Linked DNA regions of Homo sapiens. The protein of the gene in region 2 purifies or fractionates together with the protein of the main gene of each other region. This does not show direct contact. Each region holds a gene or a part of one and is shown on either strand. Other genes may lie near its edges.

Region 1 (4,399 bases), about 96 Mb from region 2:
TGTACTTCAGCCTGGGCAACAGAGCAGGACTCCGTCTCCAAAAACCAACCAACCAACCAACCACACACTGGGGTACAGGTGCCCACACCAAAGAACCTCCCCCATACCCACTGCCAGAAGAATGTGAGTCAGAACTGACTATATGGCTCTCTTAATCTTTTTCAACCTAATAAGCTCAAAAAAAGCCCTTGTGAAGAACAAAAAACAATGGAGGTTCTATTAGAGTAAGGTCACCATCATATTGGTCAGCCATAAAGTTTCTTACATGACTATCTAGGATTCCCCTGACACTGAAGTCTGAGGTGATTAAGAAGCAAGGATGGGCAATGGAGTTATTCTACTGCTATATTCTGGAAAGGTACTTGCATGGCAACATACCTGTTAGAATCTAACAAAGCCTGAAAGCTTAGCACATTTTGCCAGCAAGATTGTCCTGAGGCACTGGGCCCATACTCAAGTGAGTAACACCACTACAGTACATTCCAGCACCAATAAACACAACCATCTGCTCAGTTCTACTATTATTTATTTTTTTAAATATTTTTGAAAAAATATAATTTTTTTACAATATTTTCAACTTAAACACTATTCACACTGAACACGTATGGCAGCTTAACCTACCCAAATATGAAGTTTAAGAAGCCAAAACTGTTCTAGCTTTGTTAAAAGTTGTGCTGCAGACTCTCGTGATGGTTAACAAAGCAAGGAAAAGCACCACTCAAATCATGTTACAGTATCTTTGTTCAGCTGGATTATGGGTTGGTATTGGTCATATGTTAGACTCCATACAGGCATAGCTATGATGCAGTGAATCCCTTAGAAGTTACAATTCTCAAATTACATACTTCCTCAGATGTAACATTAGAACTCAATATTTCTAACAATAACATACCAGAAAAGGCTGGACTGGCACTCATCTGCTGACTAACTTGTAGCCTCAGTAATATGACATACTTGCCTTTAACAAATTATCTCAAATTAACTAACAGACCTTCAGAAAATGGAGATTCTTTTTGATGGGGACATAATCAAATTTAAGTCTGAGAAATATGCTTAACAGTTGGAACTCAAATTAAATGTACTGATTTTAAAGTTTAGACATTAACAAGTGATAGATTAGCCTCAAAAAAAGACAATTTGGTAAGGTTTAGGTCTTTTAATTTGGTGCTTGTTCACAACTTGACTGGTGCTTCTTTCCTTGCTGTCTTCACATCAAGCCATGGGGCCAATTCTATTTTCAGTAAATGTTTGACAGCTTTTTACTTAGTAACAGTCTCAGCACTTTTATTAAGCATGCAAGACTAACAAAAACTTTGGCAATGCATAAGTGTAACACAGTGACAAGAGAGCTTTTACAATTAAGTCTTCTAATACTGCCTTCACAGTGTGGAAATTGTGCTACATCCACCAAAAGAGGGCCCCGTCTACTCAAATATTTCCGTACTTCACCCCAGGAACAAACTCCTTTGCATTTGGATTCAGATTGCTCTTGACCTGGAAAATAAGTACATAAAAAAGCAAGTTCATTAACACAGTTTCAGGTACTAATTCAATCTAGATCCTCATGCAAAAACATCTTCCAAAAAAAAAAAGACAAAAGAACTCAGTCTGTAAGACTATACTAAACCCCAAAAAGGAAGAACCAGATGTAAGCTATATATCATATTAAATTACATCAACTTTTTCTTTTCTTTTTTTGTGACGGAGTCTTGCTCTGTCGCCCAGGCTGGAGTGCAGTGGCACAATCTAGGCTTACTGCAACCTCTGCCACCTGGGTTCAAGCGATTCTCCTGCCTCAGCCTCCTGAGTAGCTGGGACTACAGGCGCGTGCCACCACACCCAACTAATTTTTTGTATTTTTATTTATTTATTTAGTTTTTTTTTTATGAGACGGAGTCTCACTCTGTCACCCAGGCTGCAGTGCAGTGGCGCGATCTCAGCTCACTGCAAGCTCCGCCTCCCGGGTTCACACCATTCTCCTGTCTCTCATCCTCCTGAGTAGCTGGGACTACAGGCGCCCACCGCCACGCCCAGCTAATTTTTTGTTGTATTTTTAGTAAAGACGGGGTTTCACCATGTTAGCCAGGATGGTCTCGATCTCCTGACCTCGTGATCCGCCCGCCTTGGCCTCCCAAAGTGCTGGGATTACAGGCGTAAGCCACCGCGCCCGGCCTAATTTTTCGTATTTTTAGTAGAGAAGGGGTTTCACCATGTTAGCCAGGATGGTGTTGATCTGACCTCGTGATCTGCCTGCCTCGGCCTCCTAAAATGCTGGGACTACAGGCGTGAGCCACTGCACCCGGCCTAAATTACATCAATTTTCTAAAGAGAAAATAGGAATTGAAATTCAGTTTGCTTAAGTGTAACCAGAAATCCAGTAACTTCACATAAGTTAAAGGAATAGCACGGAACAAGGAATTCTGTTAATCGAACTATGGTATGTAGCTTTCTTTAAACACTAAATACCAAGGAACCATGTTAAACAAGTGTTGAAATTATGATTAAAGTAACTGGGGAATTGCTGATTTTACTTTAGAATCCTCACTAAAAATGTGGAGTTGTTTTTCTACAATTGCCATCTTCTAATTCCCACAGGAAGCATGGTATATAACAGGAAAAGAAAACTACATGGGGAACCAGAAGACCTAAGCCTGAAATCCCAGCCCTGCCCCTAACTAACTTCTGTGTAAACTCAGATAAGTCACCTTTCTCTGGGATTCAAATTTTTGCATCAGTTAAAAAAAAAGGGGTGGGGGGGAATGGGCCAAAGTCTGAGTCTTAGAGACTTGTACCAATGTTATGCTATGTCTCTAAATCTTTACTCTCCTAAGTAGACTTGTCAGCATCTAGGAAGAACAGCTAGAAATTTTCCTCTGTGATATTTTAGACTGCAAGTTGAAAAAAATAAAAAGAAATGAGGGCAGGTTCCAGGGCCTGAAATGTAGGTATGCTGCAAGGCTTTTACATTGAATTTGACCCTACATCACTTCAAGACTAATGCATAATATTAAACATCATGTTGAAGAAATAATTTTAGTTTCGTAATTTATACATAGCAGTTTCTTTGGACAGGATATATTCTCCCTTCCCCCAAGGGAAATAATGTATCTACATTTTAAAAGTGTGAAGTTTAAGAAAAAAAAGCAGCATTCCTTTTCTCTTTTTTTGAGACATGGACTCGCTCTGTTGCTTAGACTGGAGGGCAGCGGAACAATCACAGCTCACTGCAGCATCGGCCTCCTGGGCTCAAGTGATCCTCTGGCCTCTGCCTCCCAAGTACCTGGGACCACAGGCCTGTGCCACCACACCCAGCTAACTTTAAACTTTTTGTAGAAACAGGGTCTCCCTTTGTTGCCCAGGCTGGTCTCGAACTCCTGGGCCAAAGTAATCTTCCCACTTTGGCCTCCCAAAGTGCTGGGATTACAAGCATGAGCCACCACATCCAGGCACAGTGTTCTTAAATGAACAATTTTCTGGGAGCAACAGAAGAATGAAACAAAGTAATATCAAATAGACTGAGAAGAACAAACCAGCTTCTGTACTATGGAATTATACTGGGTCCAGATTAAAGTTATACATTATGCTCAGCCAAGAGTGTTACTCTGCAGGGCAACTGGATTATTTATGGTGACTAATGTAGCCGTAAGTAATCATACCCCCCTCCAGACTATTCAGATCATACAGCTGCTCAAATGGGTTACCATCACTTACTGCAACAAAGGCTATATACCACAATGTAAACTTCAGTGCTCTCTACACCATCCTTTAGAAGAATGGTTTCCAAATGACCGACTCAGGCAAGTTGGCTGTATAATAAATCCTCTGTAGTACTTTTAAAAAATTAACATGCCCAGACAACTGAGCATGTTGGGATGTAACTAAAGAACTGATTTTTGTATTTAATGCTTCATAGGTAATCATGGTGTACAGATTAGTTCAGTGGACCCAGCCAGTTCTCACTCTAGTGCTGATGTTTAGTTATCACAATTCCCCCCACCCCGCTTTTTTTTTTTTTTTTTTTTTTGAGGTGGAGTCTCACTCTGTCGCCCAGGCTAGAGTGCAACGACACCATCTTGGTTCACCACAACCTCCACCTCCCAGATTCATGCGATTCTCCTGCCTTAGCCTCCCAGGTAGCTGGGATTACAGGCACGCACCACCACAACCAGCTAATTTTCTGTATACTTTTAGTAGAGACGGGGTTTCACCATGTTGGTCAGGCTGGTCTCGAACTCTTGACCTCGTGATCCGCGTGCCTCGGCGTCCCAAAGTGTTGGGATTACAGGCATGAGCCACTGCACCCAGCCAAGACAAGATTAAAGAGCAAAACTTCTCCATCAAGCTACTTCTGTATAGGCAAGTAACATGATAATATTGTGTGTGTTTTTAAATTATTAAT
Region 2 (7,035 bases):
AGAGTCAATTACTGAACAAGAGGTAATTTATTTTTTCTTTGTTAAAAATTGTTTACAAAGTCAACCTAAACTGGCTGCGTGGAAACCATTCAGTACCCATAGCTTTTCCCTTTGTCTTGAAAAGGAAAACTGTCAAAACCAGTTTTGTGAAGCAAGTTACTTTCCCAGAGTTTTCTCACCTTATCAATAAAGATTACAAATACTTAATAACAAAATGATAAACTTTTACAGTCCATTTAAAAAATCTATGTTAGTAACAATATCTGACACTGTAGTTCACTTATGAAGGCAGTGACAGGATTATTGTGCCTAGTTTAGTTACCTTGTAGGAACTATGACTGACAATAAGCTCCAAGAAGAGGATTTCTTCTTTTTCTCCTCTGTGTGAAGCAAATGGGTCAAGTCAGGGGCAAAGAGAGCAAGGAAAAATCAGTTATTTGAAGCTGTCAGTCTCATTGGAAATAGAAAACAAGTCCGGTGCTTTCTATATTGTGGTTTTAATGGGGGAATTTTTTCCTCACATTAGTACTTCTCTGATACGTATAATGGAAATTACAAGAATAATGGACTTAAAAACAATTCATTTTATTTTCAGTTGGAGGTTGTGTGTGTGTGTGTGTGTGTGTGTGTGTGTGTGTATTTAAAGATCCTTTTCAAAGTTGTAGTATTAAAAAAAAAATTACAGAGACAATTTGGGTAAAATCAGTGCTTTCTTAGTAAAAAACCTATAAGACAAGGTGAGGCTCTCTCTCCCCTCTTTGGGCTGCCAGTATGCTGTGAATCAGATTACACCTATGTTGCTTAAACATATTAAATTTGATAAAAATCGTTGAAAATAAAACTATCAGTTTTTTCAAACTGGGAGACTTAGTATGAAAAGATGGTGTATATTCTAGCCTCTTCAATAGTCAGGAACAGTTTCTTTATTGTAGAAAGAGCATTGGGACATTGTCCTTGCCTCTTGCTGTGGACAACCAAACTGACAAATGGTTATTTTGTTTGACTATTTAAAAAGCAAAGCAATGTGAGATTATAAAAGATATGTCTTTAATTAGATGTCGGACTGAATATGAAGTTAAAGATCAAGCTGCAAAAGGGGATGAAGTTACTCGAAAACGATTTCATGCATTTGTACTCTTTCTGGGAGAACTTTATCTTAACCTGGAGGTGAGAAGTTTTTCTTTTGTTAAGTACTAACAAGGCCTGAGAACATAAGTTGATCTCAATGAGGAATTTGTGTTCACATTGTACTTTTACAACATTAAGAGTGAAATGAAAGAGAGAGGAAAGAAAACATGTTTCGGCACCTGCTAGTGTCTGTGGTTTACTGGACCGTCTGTCCATAACATTTACTCATGGACAGAATGTTAGGAAATAATTACTGAGGTAAAAATCTGCGTACTTTTAGGAAGCTGTGGTTTACATGCAAATTTAAGTTCTTGAGATATCAACAGTGATACCTTTTTGAGTTCTTACATCTTATATATTAATACATTTAGTATGTTGACTTTCAGATGGTGGCTCAAAGCAGTTTACTCTGCAGAACTCTGAGTGAAAAGAGAGACTAGAGTCTCTCTAGGCTTTTCACTCTAATTCACCCAAATAGTTTTTTAAAAATATTTTTTTAATTGACAAAAATTATATCTTTATGGTACACAACACTTTGATATATGCATACATCGTAGAATGGCTAAATCAAGCTATTTAACATATGCATTACTTGACATACTTTTTTGTGTTAAGAACACTTAAAATTTTTAGCAGTTTTCATGTATACAATATATTGTTAACTATAGTCATCATGGTGTACAAGAGATCTCTTGAACTTATTCCCCCTAAATGAAATTCTGTGTCCTTTGACCAACATCTCCCCAATACCCCAACCCCTAAGAATAGTTCTTTTTTGTCCTATTTTATATATTAATCTTCCACATAAAAATGCATTTGTACAAAGTCTACAGCTAAACGTATTTATAAATTTGGGTGGTATACTTAAGTATATGCTTGTTAGTAGGCAATAGAAGTGCTGGATTCAGCACGGCATTATTACTGTGTAATAGATTTGCTTGATTTTTTTTTTTTTTTTTTTTTTTTGGGTGGGGACAGTCTCGCTCTGTCACCCAGGCTGGAGTGCAGTGACGTGATCTCGGCTCACTACAACCTCCGCCTCCCGGGTTCAAGCGATTCTCCTGCTTCAGCCTTCTGAGCAGCTGGGATTACAGGCACGTACCACTATGCCTGGCTAATGTTTATATTTTTAGCAGAGATGGGGTTTCACCATGTTGGCCACGCTGGTCTCAAACTCCTGACCTCAGGTGCTACCCGCCTCAGCCTCCCAGAGTGCTGGGATTACAGGCATGAGCCACCATGCCCAGCCTCTGCTTGATTTTTTAAATTAGTGAATATCAGATATAAGCTTATACCTTCTTACACCCTGATTTGAGAACTTAAGATCGTAAACGCCATAATATCAGAAACATCATAAGACAATGTGAATCTATCAAATGTGCATCTCAGTCATTGTATCTAAAAGGTCTATGTCCAGTCCAGAGCCTAACTTACTATGCCTTTTTACCACAGGTAGACTTAGTTTTTTGAAAAATCTTATGCCATGTTCTTTTTCAGTCTAATTTTTGTTTAAGCCAAAATATGGACAGCAATCTAAAATAAATACTGTTGAGCATTTTCTATATGGAGATAATGATGCTAGGTCAATGGGGGATGTAAAGATAAGGCTTAGTTCCTGCACCTAAAATTCTTCTACACAGTGATATAAGATACATATACCACTCTGATGCAAAATACCATATTTTAAAATATTTTAAAAGCAGAATAAAATGCTGTGTGTTCAAAAAAAAGTGGTAGTTGAACAAACTAAAGAAAGCTTTATGAAGTAGTAACATCAAAGTGGGCTTAAATTATGCTGACTCTGGTATTAAATTTTACCCATAGCTTACCAGTTTTATTAGAGGTCTTAGTTACATATAAAGTAATTCTAACAAATTCTGTGAAGATATCAGAGTGTGTTCCTGTGACTTTTGTGATTTAGCTAAAATGCTTATTTTGCCAACACCTTGTTAGTTCATTTATGTATCTGTATTATATTTTGGCATCATTCCTTTTGTTCTTTTTTTTGGTCCCGAAAGATCAAGGGAACAAATGGACAGGTTACAAGAGCAGATATTCTTCAGGTTGGTCTTCGAGAATTGCTGAATGCCCTGTTTTCTAATCCTATGGATGACAATTTAATTTGTGCAGTAAAATTGTTAAAGGTAGGTTTTTTTTTTTAATTTAACTAATTTACGTATTTACTTATGATTTAGAGGAAGGTTAGTCTATATAGTATACAGATGAATTCAAGATTTATCACTTTAAGGTAAATATTGACATTTTACTTTTTTCTCGAATATTTTGGAAAAGCGAGATATACTTATTGTTTAATATATGAAGCAAGTTCAGAAGTGAAAAATGGAAGTCCTTTACGCCATTTCCATTTGCAAATTCTGTCTTCTTCCCTTCTTATCTCTGTATATGTGCTCTTATTAAATAAGATCTTACTCTGTTCTGGCTTTTTGTTTTTGTTTTTGCCACCTAATGAAACATCTTAGATTTTTCCATGGCACAGAGATTTACCTCTTTTATTGAATAACTTCCTAGTATTCTGTCATATGCATATGCATTGTTTATCCATTCCGTAACATCTATCAATGTTTACTAATGAATATTTGGATTATCTTCAGTTTAGCCATGGCAGCATTGCTTGTAATCTTTCCTCTTGTCATATATATGTGCAGATACTTTTGTAGGTTAAATTCTTAAACACGGATTTGGTGGGTGGACGAGCATATGTATTTTACGACAAGTAATGGCTAATTTGCCTTCCAAATGCTGAACCAGAGTATAGCCCCATCAGCAGAATGAGTACATCTCTTCCTACATCCTTATAGTGATGGATATAATCAATCTTGGTTTTTGTTTTGTCAGATGATTTTAAGCATTTCTTCATGTTTATTAGCCATTTGTTTATTATTTCCTATAAATTACCTGTTTAAATCCTTAACTGATTTATTTCCTGATGAAATGCATGTTTGTGTTTTTTTTTTTTATTCAAAGCTTCTATACTTGTTGCTTGCTGTATATTTCAAAAAAAGTGACATGTTCATTAAAATCTAATAGCCTATCTTAGTCATACAGGGAATATAACAGTCGTTGACATAAAACCCATGATTAAAGTTCTGCTATTGTTTTTTTTGTTTTAGTTTCTCTCAGTCAAGAGAAATATAGAGGGCGTAGAGATCACTGAATATTAGATGGTAGACAGAATAATTAGGAATATTAAACTTGCTAAATTCATCTTGTTTAGAGAATGCTTGAACTGTTACTGGTATCTTTTTAGAATTTCTATAATACACTATTGAATTTCTTATTTTACTGACACCTGCTTTTTTAGTTGACAGGATCAGTTTTGGAAGATGCTTGGAAGGAAAAAGGAAAGATGGATATGGAAGAAATTATTCAGAGAATTGAAAACGTTGTCCTAGATGCAAACTGCAGTAGGTAGGAAAAGAAGTAATGTAAATAGCCAGTGCATCTCAATTTCTTGCTTTTTCTTTGGAGATTGTTTTTTAATTTGCTATACTTCAGCAGGGTAAGTTGATGGCTAACGGATATACAAAAATGCTTTTCTTTAAAGGAATAATATTTTACCTATAGTTTCTGCTCACTAGACATTTTTGTGATAGACGTGTCAGATATTTTTGCTCAATTACATTTAGAAATTGAAAAAGCTAATTTTCTTAAGATATGAATTAAATGAAAAACAAAATCCAAATATTAACTGTCCAACAAATAAAAGTACTACTGTAAGTATAGTAGGACACATAAAAATGTTTGAAGGATAGCCACTGCCTTTAAGGTCCATATAGTCATAGTTACGTGGAACATAATTCAAGGCTATTTTTTTTTTAAATGAATTTATGTCATATAGGAAACGTCTAGAAAGTCAAGGCATCAGATGTACCTGTTAAATTAAGGAAATAAAGTTTTGGGAATCTGAGATATTTTAGGGTCTGACAGCCCTTATGGTGGATACACTAACTCATTTTCAACTTTGTCTACAGAGATGTAAAACAGATGCTCTTGAAGCTTGTAGAACTCCGGTCAAGTAACTGGGGCAGAGTCCATGCAACTTCAACATATAGAGAAGCAACACCAGAAAATGATCCTAACTACTTTATGGTATGCCAGTGTTTATATTTTAAGTTTTACTTATTGCTTGAATTCCGTTTTGGAAATTAGAAGAGCTACATAAAGCTGTTCTCAGAATTCAGTGCCTAATAACTGTCTTCACTGGCTTTGAGTGACATGGCAGCCATCAGACTGGGTAAAAAAGAAAAGAGACCTGGAATTCTCCAGTGAAAGGGTGGACTAGAGAAAGATATATCCAATGGCAAGAGAGATTGACAAGGCTTGGACTTAAGTGAGCACAGGGATGCCAGGAAGCAGCTTTTCCAGAGAATTTATAACCAAGGACCTGCATCTCAGACTTTTACTTTGCATGTTGTAGTAACGAAAAATAAAATAAAATTGGTTGGCTGGGCGTAGTGGCTCACACCTGTAATCCCAGCGCTTTGGGAGGCCAAGGTGGGCAGATCACCTGAGGTCAGGAGTTCAAGACCAGCCTGACCAACGTGGAGAAACCCCGTCTCTACTAAAACTACAAAGTCAGCTGGGCGTGGCAGTACTTGCCTGTAATCCCAGCTACTCGGGAGGCTGAGGCAGGAGAATTGCTTGAAGCCTGGAGGCAGAGGTTGTGGTGAGCTGAAATCACGCCATTGCACTCCAGCCCAGGCAACAAGAGCACAACTCTGTCTCAGGGAAAAAAAAAAAATGGCTACTAGGCCAGTGATGCCCTGAAGCTCCTGACATGAACAAACATAAAGCAGCTGTGGAGAAATGTTCCTCCAGCCCTGGTCCTGGAAATTCTTAAAAGAAATGGTGGGGTTGGAAACCACAGCTAAAAATGCACTGACACTAAATGACAATGCACAACAGAACAGTTCACTGAAAGACAATAGACAGCACCGTTAGAACCACAAGAACTTGAGATAATGGCATGGAAATCTGAAAACCATAGACTTTCTCAGTGAAGTGAAAATGGCTACCAGGAAGTTAGGTTCCTTTGCTTGTTCTTGCATTATTAGGTGCAGACGGGTGACATCAGCCATGCTTCATTATTGTACTTACAAAAATCAATTCTGAAATGATTACATATTTTTATCACTTTGATTCATCCTAGAATGAACCAACATTTTATACATCTGATGGTGTTCCTTTCACTGCAGCTGATCCAGGTATGTTGTCTCACAGTCATTCCCTCCTCCCAGTTGTTTGGTAAAGTAGTAAATTTACAGAAAACCACATCCTCACCAGCACAAGATTGTAACTTTTTGATGTCTTCACATCATTCTAAAATACCAGTGTAATGGTTTGTCTAATATAGAATGCTCTTCATAGTGACCACTTGAAACATTTCAAATGAAAGTATGATTCCACATATAATGTCTTGTCACTTAACAACAGAGGATGGGAAGAATTCTCAATTAAATGCAACTATTTTAATTTTATATTTCCTCTAACTTTTTTATAATCTTAAATTTTCAGGTGATTAGAATGGAGGGGAAAGACGATTCTAGTTCACTGCATAGTCAGCAACATATATTAATATGGGTTAATACTTTACACGAAGAATTACACATTTCATTCATACTTGGTGTGTGACAGTTAATTAAAATCCAAATCTCTGCACATTTCCTCTTCCAGAAGAGGACCATTTATAGAAAGATTGCCTTAATTGTATTAGATGGAACTGTAGAGTGAGGAAGAGAAATTTTTCCCTTTGGTACAAACTGCAACCAGCTTATGGTTGGAATTTTTCCATTTGTTTCCTCTGGATTCCAAGCATTGACTGTCCTGTGTCTCTAGCACAGAGAAGTTTTTTTAGGGCAAGGAAGTAGAATTAAGTTACACGCTATG
Region 3 (7,035 bases), on a different chromosome or scaffold from region 2:
ATTGATCCTCAACAACAAGCCGGGCATGGTGGCTCATGCCTGTAATCCCAGCACTTTGGGAGGCCGAGGCTGGTGGATCACCTAAGGTCAGGAGTTCGAGACCAGCCTGGCCAACATGGTGAAACCCTGTCCCTACTAAAAATACAAAAATTAGCCAAGTATGGTGGCGCATGCCTGTAATCCCAGCTACTCAGGAGGCTGAGGCAGGAGAATCGCTTAGAACCCCGGAGGCAGAGGTTGCAGTGAGCCGAGATCACACCATTACTCTCCAGCCTGGGCGACAGAGCAAGACTCGATCTCAAAAAAAAAAAAAAAAAAAATTAAGGCTGGGCACAGTGGCTCATGCCTGTAATCTCAGCACTTTGGGAGGCTGAGGTGGGCGGATCACCTGAGATCAGGAGTTCAAGACCAACCTGACCAACATGGAGAAACCCCGTCTCTACTAAAAACACAAAATTACCCAGGCATGGTGGCGCATGCCTACAATCCCAGCTACTTGGGAAGCTGAGGCAGGACAATCGCTTGAACCTGGGAGGCGGAGGTTGCAGTGAGCAGAGATCATGCCATTGCACTCCAGCCTGGGCAACAAGAATGAAATTCTGCCTCAAAAAGAAAAAAAAAAACATTTAAATTCTCTACAATAAAATGGGGGTACTATTTTTGTCCCCATTTTAAAGATTAGGTGACAGATATAGTAGTCAGCAAGGGCCTCATAGTCAGTTGGTCCCAGGAACTGGAGGCCAAGCTAACTACCACGCTACAGTCTCCAAAGTCAGCTTTGCTCACCGAGAGGGCATATGGCAAGGTCACCATGGAGGCTGGTCCTGACTCCTAGTGCCAACTTTGCCCCACCCCCATTCCCCTTGGCCCTACCCACACTCACCTACTCTCTGGGTATGAGGCACCGTGCGTGGCACCTGGGTGGAGGCCTGCCTGACACTGCTGATGTGGGCCGGGGGGCGCCGAGGCACAACTGGTGGCCGGACCATTGAGGCACCTGGAGGGTAGGCAGCTTGTGGTGCAGACACCACAGAGAGAGAAAAGTTGGATGGAGTGGTGGGAATAATCAGGGTGGCACACTGTGCCTAGAAGCTTCCAGGGCCACCAAGAGAATGGGAAGGGAAACTACAACATTCACAACAGAAATAGGAGTCAATTCACTTAGACCCAGAACTCCAGAAAGGGGGAGTGTAGGAATCTACAATTTCAAAGCCAGCTCGTGTCTACCTAGAGCCCCAAACTGCATAAGCACCAGGATTGTACACCTTAGTCCCTCAAGATAGTTTCAAGTGAGCGTGCAATTCACTCTTACAGAGGAGGGCCTTTGGTCAACAATATAGCCAGAGGAATTTCACCTTCTCAGCTTTGCAAGAATTTTCAGAGTCACAAATCAGAGGCATCTTTGGTGATGACTGCTGGTGGCTAGCTGCGTGTCTTCCATTGGCTCACCACTGTGCTTGGTACTTTACACACGTCTCATTCAGGCCCATGCTCAGAAGAGGAAACTGAGGCTCAGAGAAGTGAAGTCACCCACCTTGGGAAGTGGCAGAGCCAGGTTTCATCCCTGTGTTATGACTGCCTCACGGGGCCCACACCAATAGGCCAGTCTGAGAGTGGAAGGGGCTGGGTCACTCACAGGAAGGTCTAGGTGGCTGGGATGTCCACCTGGGGGCAGGCTGGGTGGGTGTCACTGGGCCACAGCCATAGTATGCAGCCTGGGCTGGAGGCTGCATGGGAAAAGAAGACCCAGACTGAGGGGCTTGGCGGCAGGGTAGGTGAGAAGCTACACCTCCTCAGGGACACCATGGCAGGAACTCCACTGGCTCCTGCAGGGACTGGTGAGTCAAGACCCACAAGGCTGTAATGAAAGCTCCTTCCTCCCATCTCAGGATGTCCATTAGCCCTGAATCCTGCAGGGCAAAGATCTTAGATTTCAATCTTGGCTCCCTGTCAGCTAACCCAATGACCTGGATAAAAAGGGTGACATCTTACTCCAACTTGTGCAGCTTAAGCAACTGCTAAAAGGAGAGGAATGTTCTTACCGTGGTGGCCTTTAATGGGTGACATCTTTCTACTTCCTGTAAGTCCCACGAGGTCCTTTCCCAAACCATGCTCCTCAGAACATTAACATCCAGGGGAGATGTTAACAGGCATCCCACAAAAAAATGACCATCTAAGCTGGGGAAATGCTGGATAATCTGTGCCTGTTTTGGAGAGTCTCAGTAGACATTGGCATCTTAGGGTAGAATAGTGTAGATAGTAAAGAAATTTAGGGCCGATCATGGTGGCTCATGCCTGTAATCCCAGCACTTTAGGAGGTCAAGGAGGGCACATCACTTGAGGTCAGGAGTTCAAGACCAGCCTGGCCAACATGGTGAAACCCCGTCTCTACTAAAAATACAAAAAATTAGCTGAGTGTGGTGGCACGCACCTGTAATCCCAGCTACCCGGGAGGCTGAGGCACAAGAATCACTTGAACCCAGGAGGAAGAGTTTGCAGCGAGCCAAGATGGTGTCACTGCACTCCATTCTGGGCAACAGAGCAAGACTCTGTCTCCAAAAAAATAAAAATTTAATTTTTAAAAAAATGTAGGGCGGGGGACGGTGGCTTACTCCTGTAATGCCAGCACTTTGGGAGGCCAAGGCAGGAGAATTGCTTGAGCCCAGGAGTTTGAGACCAGCCTGGGCAACATGGCGAGACCCCTTCTTTAAAATAAACAAAAAAATTAGCTGGGCATGGTGGCACACACCTGTAGTCCCACCTACTCAGGAGGCTACAGTGGGAGGATCACTCAAGCCCAGGAATTCAAGGCTGCAGTGAGCCATGATCATGCCATTGCTCTCCAGCCTGGGTGACATGGAGACCCCGTGAAGGAAGGGAGGAAGGGAGGAAGGGAGGGAAGAAGGAAGGAGCCATGATCACGCCATTGCTCACCAGCCTGGGTGACATGGAGACCCCACGAAGGAAGGAAGGAAGGAAGGGAGGGAGGGAGGGAGGGAGGGAGGGAAGGGAAGGGAAGGGAAGGGAGGGAAGGGAGGGAAGGGAGGGAAGGGAAGGAAGGGAGGAAGGAAAAATGTAGGTCTTGCTTAACGCAGCATTTCCCAAACTTGCTGGATCATTAAGAGTCTTTTTCAGCACAACATTCACGAGCTTCTCTCACTGGGAAATGCCATTTGACTAACACTATCTCTCCCTTTTATAGAGAGGGAAACAAAGACTTCCTAATGAGTCCTCGGCAGAAGCAAGTTAGAAACCTCCATTTCCCTAGAACTCTAGTCTTCATGCTCTGCCTTGCTGGGGCAGGGGGGAAGGCTGCGGTGGGAGTTGCGGGCAGGCCGTCACCTGGGGCATGGCAGGCAGGAAGTAGCTGGAGGGCTGCTGAAAGGAGCCCAGGAGGGGGTTGCTCAGGGTCCGCATGGTGGAGAGGCGCTGCATGTACTGGTTGGTCAAGATGGCCTTCCGCTCCTCTTTGCGCTGGGCCAGTGCCACGTAGAGTGGCTTGGTGCCCACGATGCGCCCGTTCATCTCTGTCACGGCCTTTGTCGCCTCTTCTGGGGAGGAAAAACACACAAAGCCAAACCCCTTGCTGTGGCCACCCTCTGTCATCACCTAAAAGCAAGACAAGACAAGAGCTGCTGGGGTGGGGAAGGAAGGCTCCTGGGGCTGCGCTGCCTCCCTCCTCCCCATGGGCTAAGCCCAGCACTGGGCAGGCCCGCGAGAAAGCTGTGATGGAGGGATGTAGCGTGCACCCCTGTTTACTAAGCTGTGTTCGAGGGATGTAGTGTGCACCCCCGTTTAGCAAGCTGTGATGGAGGGATGTAGCGTGCACCCCCATTTACTGAGGAGTGATGGAGGGATGTAGCGTGCACCCTGTTTACTGAGCTGTTTGAGGGATGCAGCACGCACCCCCATCTATGAGGCCTGCTGCATGCCAGATACTTTACATGTCTTCACACCTCACATGTACAACCTCCCGATGCGGGAGGCATCGCGGCTCCCACTTTACAGCCGGGATAAGAGAGACTCGAAAGAGTGACTTGTCTGGGGTCACTCAGCCTGTGGTTCATACGTTAGCCAGGACTCAACCCAACACATTGTTCTGGTAAGCTTCTATCGCCTCTGCTAAGTACCAAGCCAAGTTCTTTAGGAATTTGGGGAAGAGGTTCTTAGCCTTTTTGTTAAAATAACCTTTTTACTTTGGAGTAACTTTAGATTTACAGAAAAAGTTACAAAAACAGTACAGAGGGTTGCTATATATCTTTTTTTTTTTTTTTGAGACATAGTTTCACTCTGTCACTCAGGCTAGAGTGGAGTGGCACGATCTCGGCTAACTGCAACCTCAGCCTCCCGGGTTCAAGCAATTCTCCTGCCTTAGCCTCCTGGGTAGATGGGACTACAGGCGTGTGCCACCACACCTGGCTAATTTTTGTATTTTCAGTAGAGAGAGGGTTTCACCATGTTGGCCAGGCTGGTCTCAAACTCCTGACCTCAAGTGATCTGCCTGCCTCAGCCTCCCAAAGTGCTGGGATTACAGGCGTGAGCCACCATGCCTGGCCTGCTGTATATCTTTCACCCAGTTTCCCCCAATGTGAACATGGTACATTTTTCAAAACTACAAAATTAACACTGGTGCAATGCTATTAACTATTTTATACCATTAGCTCCTATTAACTACAATGCTATTAACTGAACTCCAGACTTCACTGGAATTTCACTCTTTTTTCCCCTAATATTCTTTTTCTCTTCCAGGATCCAACCCACATGGCATTTAGGGTTTGTCTTTTTGTTTATTTGTTTGTTTTTTAAAGAGATGGGGTCTCACTCTGTCATCCAGGCTGGAGTGCAGTGGTATGATCATAGCTCACTGCAGCCTCAAACTCCCGGGCTCCAGGGATCCTCCTGCCTCAGCCTCTCAAGTAGTTAGGGCTATAGGTACATGCCACCACACCCAGCTAATTTTTTTTTTTAAGTTTGTAGAGATCAGCAATCACTATGTTGCCCAGGCTGGTCTCAAGAGATCCTCCTACCTAGGTCTCCCAAGGTGCAGGGATTACAGGCAGGAGCCACCACACCTGGCCCTGGGTTTTTAACCTTTTTTTAGGGTGAAGACACCGGCCTGGCTCATACAGCCCATAAGGACTAGAGTTATTTTTAAAATCTTCTTTTTTTCCTTTTTTTTTTTCTTTTTTTTTTTTTTTTTTTTTGAGTCAGGATCTCACTCTGTCACTCAGGCTGGAGTGCAGTGGTGCAATCTCAGCTCAACTGCACCCTCAACCTCTCAGCCTCAAGTGATCCTCTCAACTCAGTCTCCCAAGTAGCTGGGACTGCAGACAAGCACCACCATGCCTAATTTTGTTCATTTTTTGTAAAGATGAGGTCTCATCCTGTTGCCCCGGCTGGGCTTGAACTCCTGGTGAGCCCACGCTCTTAATCAGTAATTTTGAAACTGTACTCTGCTACCCTTCAGTAGAGGGGTCTTAACCTGAGAGTCCATGGATCCCCCTCAGGTAGGTCATGGATACAATTTAGGGGGAAATTGCATGGATTGGGGAAAAAGTGACATCTTTATTTTCATATTAGCATTTCCTTCTATTATGAATATGGGCAACAACAAAAAAATCCTGGCAGTATTAGCCATGAATTTGTCATGAAGAAAAAGAAAATATTTTCATATCACATTAATTATTGCTAATCTCAGCCGAGCGCAATGGCTTATGCCTGTAATCCCAGCACTTTGGGAGGCCAAGGTGGGCAGATCACCTGAGGTCAGGAGTTCGAGACCAGCCTGGCCAACATGGTGAAACCCCATCTCTACTAAAAATATACAAAAATTAGCTGGTTATGGTGGCGGGTGCCTGTAATCTCAGCTTCCCAGGAGGTTGAGGCAGAACCCAGGTTCTTGAACCTGGGAGGCAGAGGTTGTAGTGAGCCAAGATCATGCCACTGCGCTCCAGTCTGGGCGACAGAGTGGGACTTCGTCTCAAAAAAATAAAAATAAAAATAATAAAAGAAGCACATACTGCTTTCACTTTAGTATTTTGACCATTATATTTTTTCAGTATGATTTTTTTGTACACCTAAGAATCTTATTTTATGCATTTAAAAATATTCTTAGGGCCAGGTTTGGTGGCTCATGCCTATTTTTGGGAAGCAGAGGCGGAAGAATTGCTTGAGCCCAGGGGTTTGAGACCAGCCTGGGTAATATAAAAAATAATTATCCAGGCATAGTGGTGCTCCTATAGTCTCAGCTACTTGGGAGGCTGAGACAGGAGATCACTTGAGGCCAGGAGTTGGAGGCTGCAGTGAGCTGTGATGGCACCACTGCATTCCAGCCTGGGTGATAGAGCGAGACTCTGTCTCAAAAAAGTTTTTAAAAAATATTCTTAGAAGGGTTCCACAGGCTTCATCAGATAGCCAAAGGGCCGGGCACAGTGGCTCACGCCTGTAATCCTAGCACTTTGGGAGGCTGAGGCAGGTGGATCACCTGAGGTCAGAAGTTCGAGACCAGCCTGGCCAAAATAGTGACACCCCATCTCTACTAAAAATACAAAAAATTAGCTGGGCATGGTGAGAGGCGCCTGTAATCCCAGCTACTCAGGAGGCTGAAGCAGGAGAATCACTTGAACCCAGGAGGCAAAGGTTACAGTGAGCTAAGATTGCACCATTGCACTCTAGCCTGGGCAACAAGAGCAAAACTCCATCTCAAAAAAAAAAAAATATATATATATTGTTAAGAACTTCTGGCAGTCGGTAGTTAATAATGATAAAATTTAGCAAAGCTAACACTTATGCAGAGCTTACCATGAACTTGATAGTGGTATAAGTATTTATATCCATTAATTCCTTTAATTTTCATAATTATTTTTATATAAAACAAAATACAGGCCAGATGCAGTGGCTCATGCCTATAATCCCAGCACTTTGGGAGGCTGAGGTAGGAGGACTGCTTGAGCCCAGGAGTTCAAGACAAGCCTGGACAACACAGCAAGACTCCCAATTTCTACCAAAAAAAAATTTTTTTTTAAATCAGCTGGG

What was found.
Region 1: the proteins of PAIP1 (region 2) and PAIP2 purify together in Homo sapiens (affinity purification with mass spectrometry; 3 studies listed by BioGRID and IntAct, with this or other methods). This does not show direct contact.
Region 3: the proteins of PAIP1 (region 2) and PABPC1L purify together in Homo sapiens (affinity purification with mass spectrometry; 3 studies listed by BioGRID and IntAct, with this or other methods). This does not show direct contact.

What each region holds. Positions count from the first base shown.
Region 1 is NC_000005.10:139,365,828-139,370,226, reverse strand, and holds the end of PAIP2 (polyadenylate-binding protein-interacting protein 2), read right to left. Parts: intron 3,032-4,399; exon of another isoform or gene 2,596-3,031; intron 1,495-2,595; coding exon 1,429-1,494; 3' UTR 510-1,428; downstream 1-509. UniProt on the Homo sapiens protein: Acts as a repressor in the regulation of translation initiation of poly(A)-containing mRNAs. Its inhibitory activity on translation is mediated via its action on PABPC1.
Region 2 is NC_000005.10:43,533,056-43,540,090, reverse strand, and holds part of PAIP1 (polyadenylate-binding protein-interacting protein 1), read left to right. Parts: intron 1-1,055; coding exon 1,056-1,167; intron 1,168-3,146; coding exon 3,147-3,272; intron 3,273-4,450; coding exon 4,451-4,557; intron 4,558-5,120; coding exon 5,121-5,238; intron 5,239-6,298; coding exon 6,299-6,353; intron 6,354-7,035. UniProt on the Homo sapiens protein: Acts as a coactivator in the regulation of translation initiation of poly(A)-containing mRNAs. Its stimulatory activity on translation is mediated via its action on PABPC1. Competes with PAIP2 for binding to PABPC1.
Region 3 is NC_000020.11:44,927,034-44,934,068, reverse strand, and holds part of PABPC1L (polyadenylate-binding protein 1-like), read right to left. Parts: intron 3,610-7,035; coding exon 3,343-3,609; exon of another isoform or gene 1,728-3,342; coding exon 1,637-1,727; exon of another isoform or gene 1,013-1,636; coding exon 884-1,012; intron 1-883. UniProt on the Homo sapiens protein: Poly(A)-binding protein involved in oocyte maturation and early embryo development. It is required for cytosolic mRNA polyadenylation and translational activation of maternally stored mRNA in oocytes.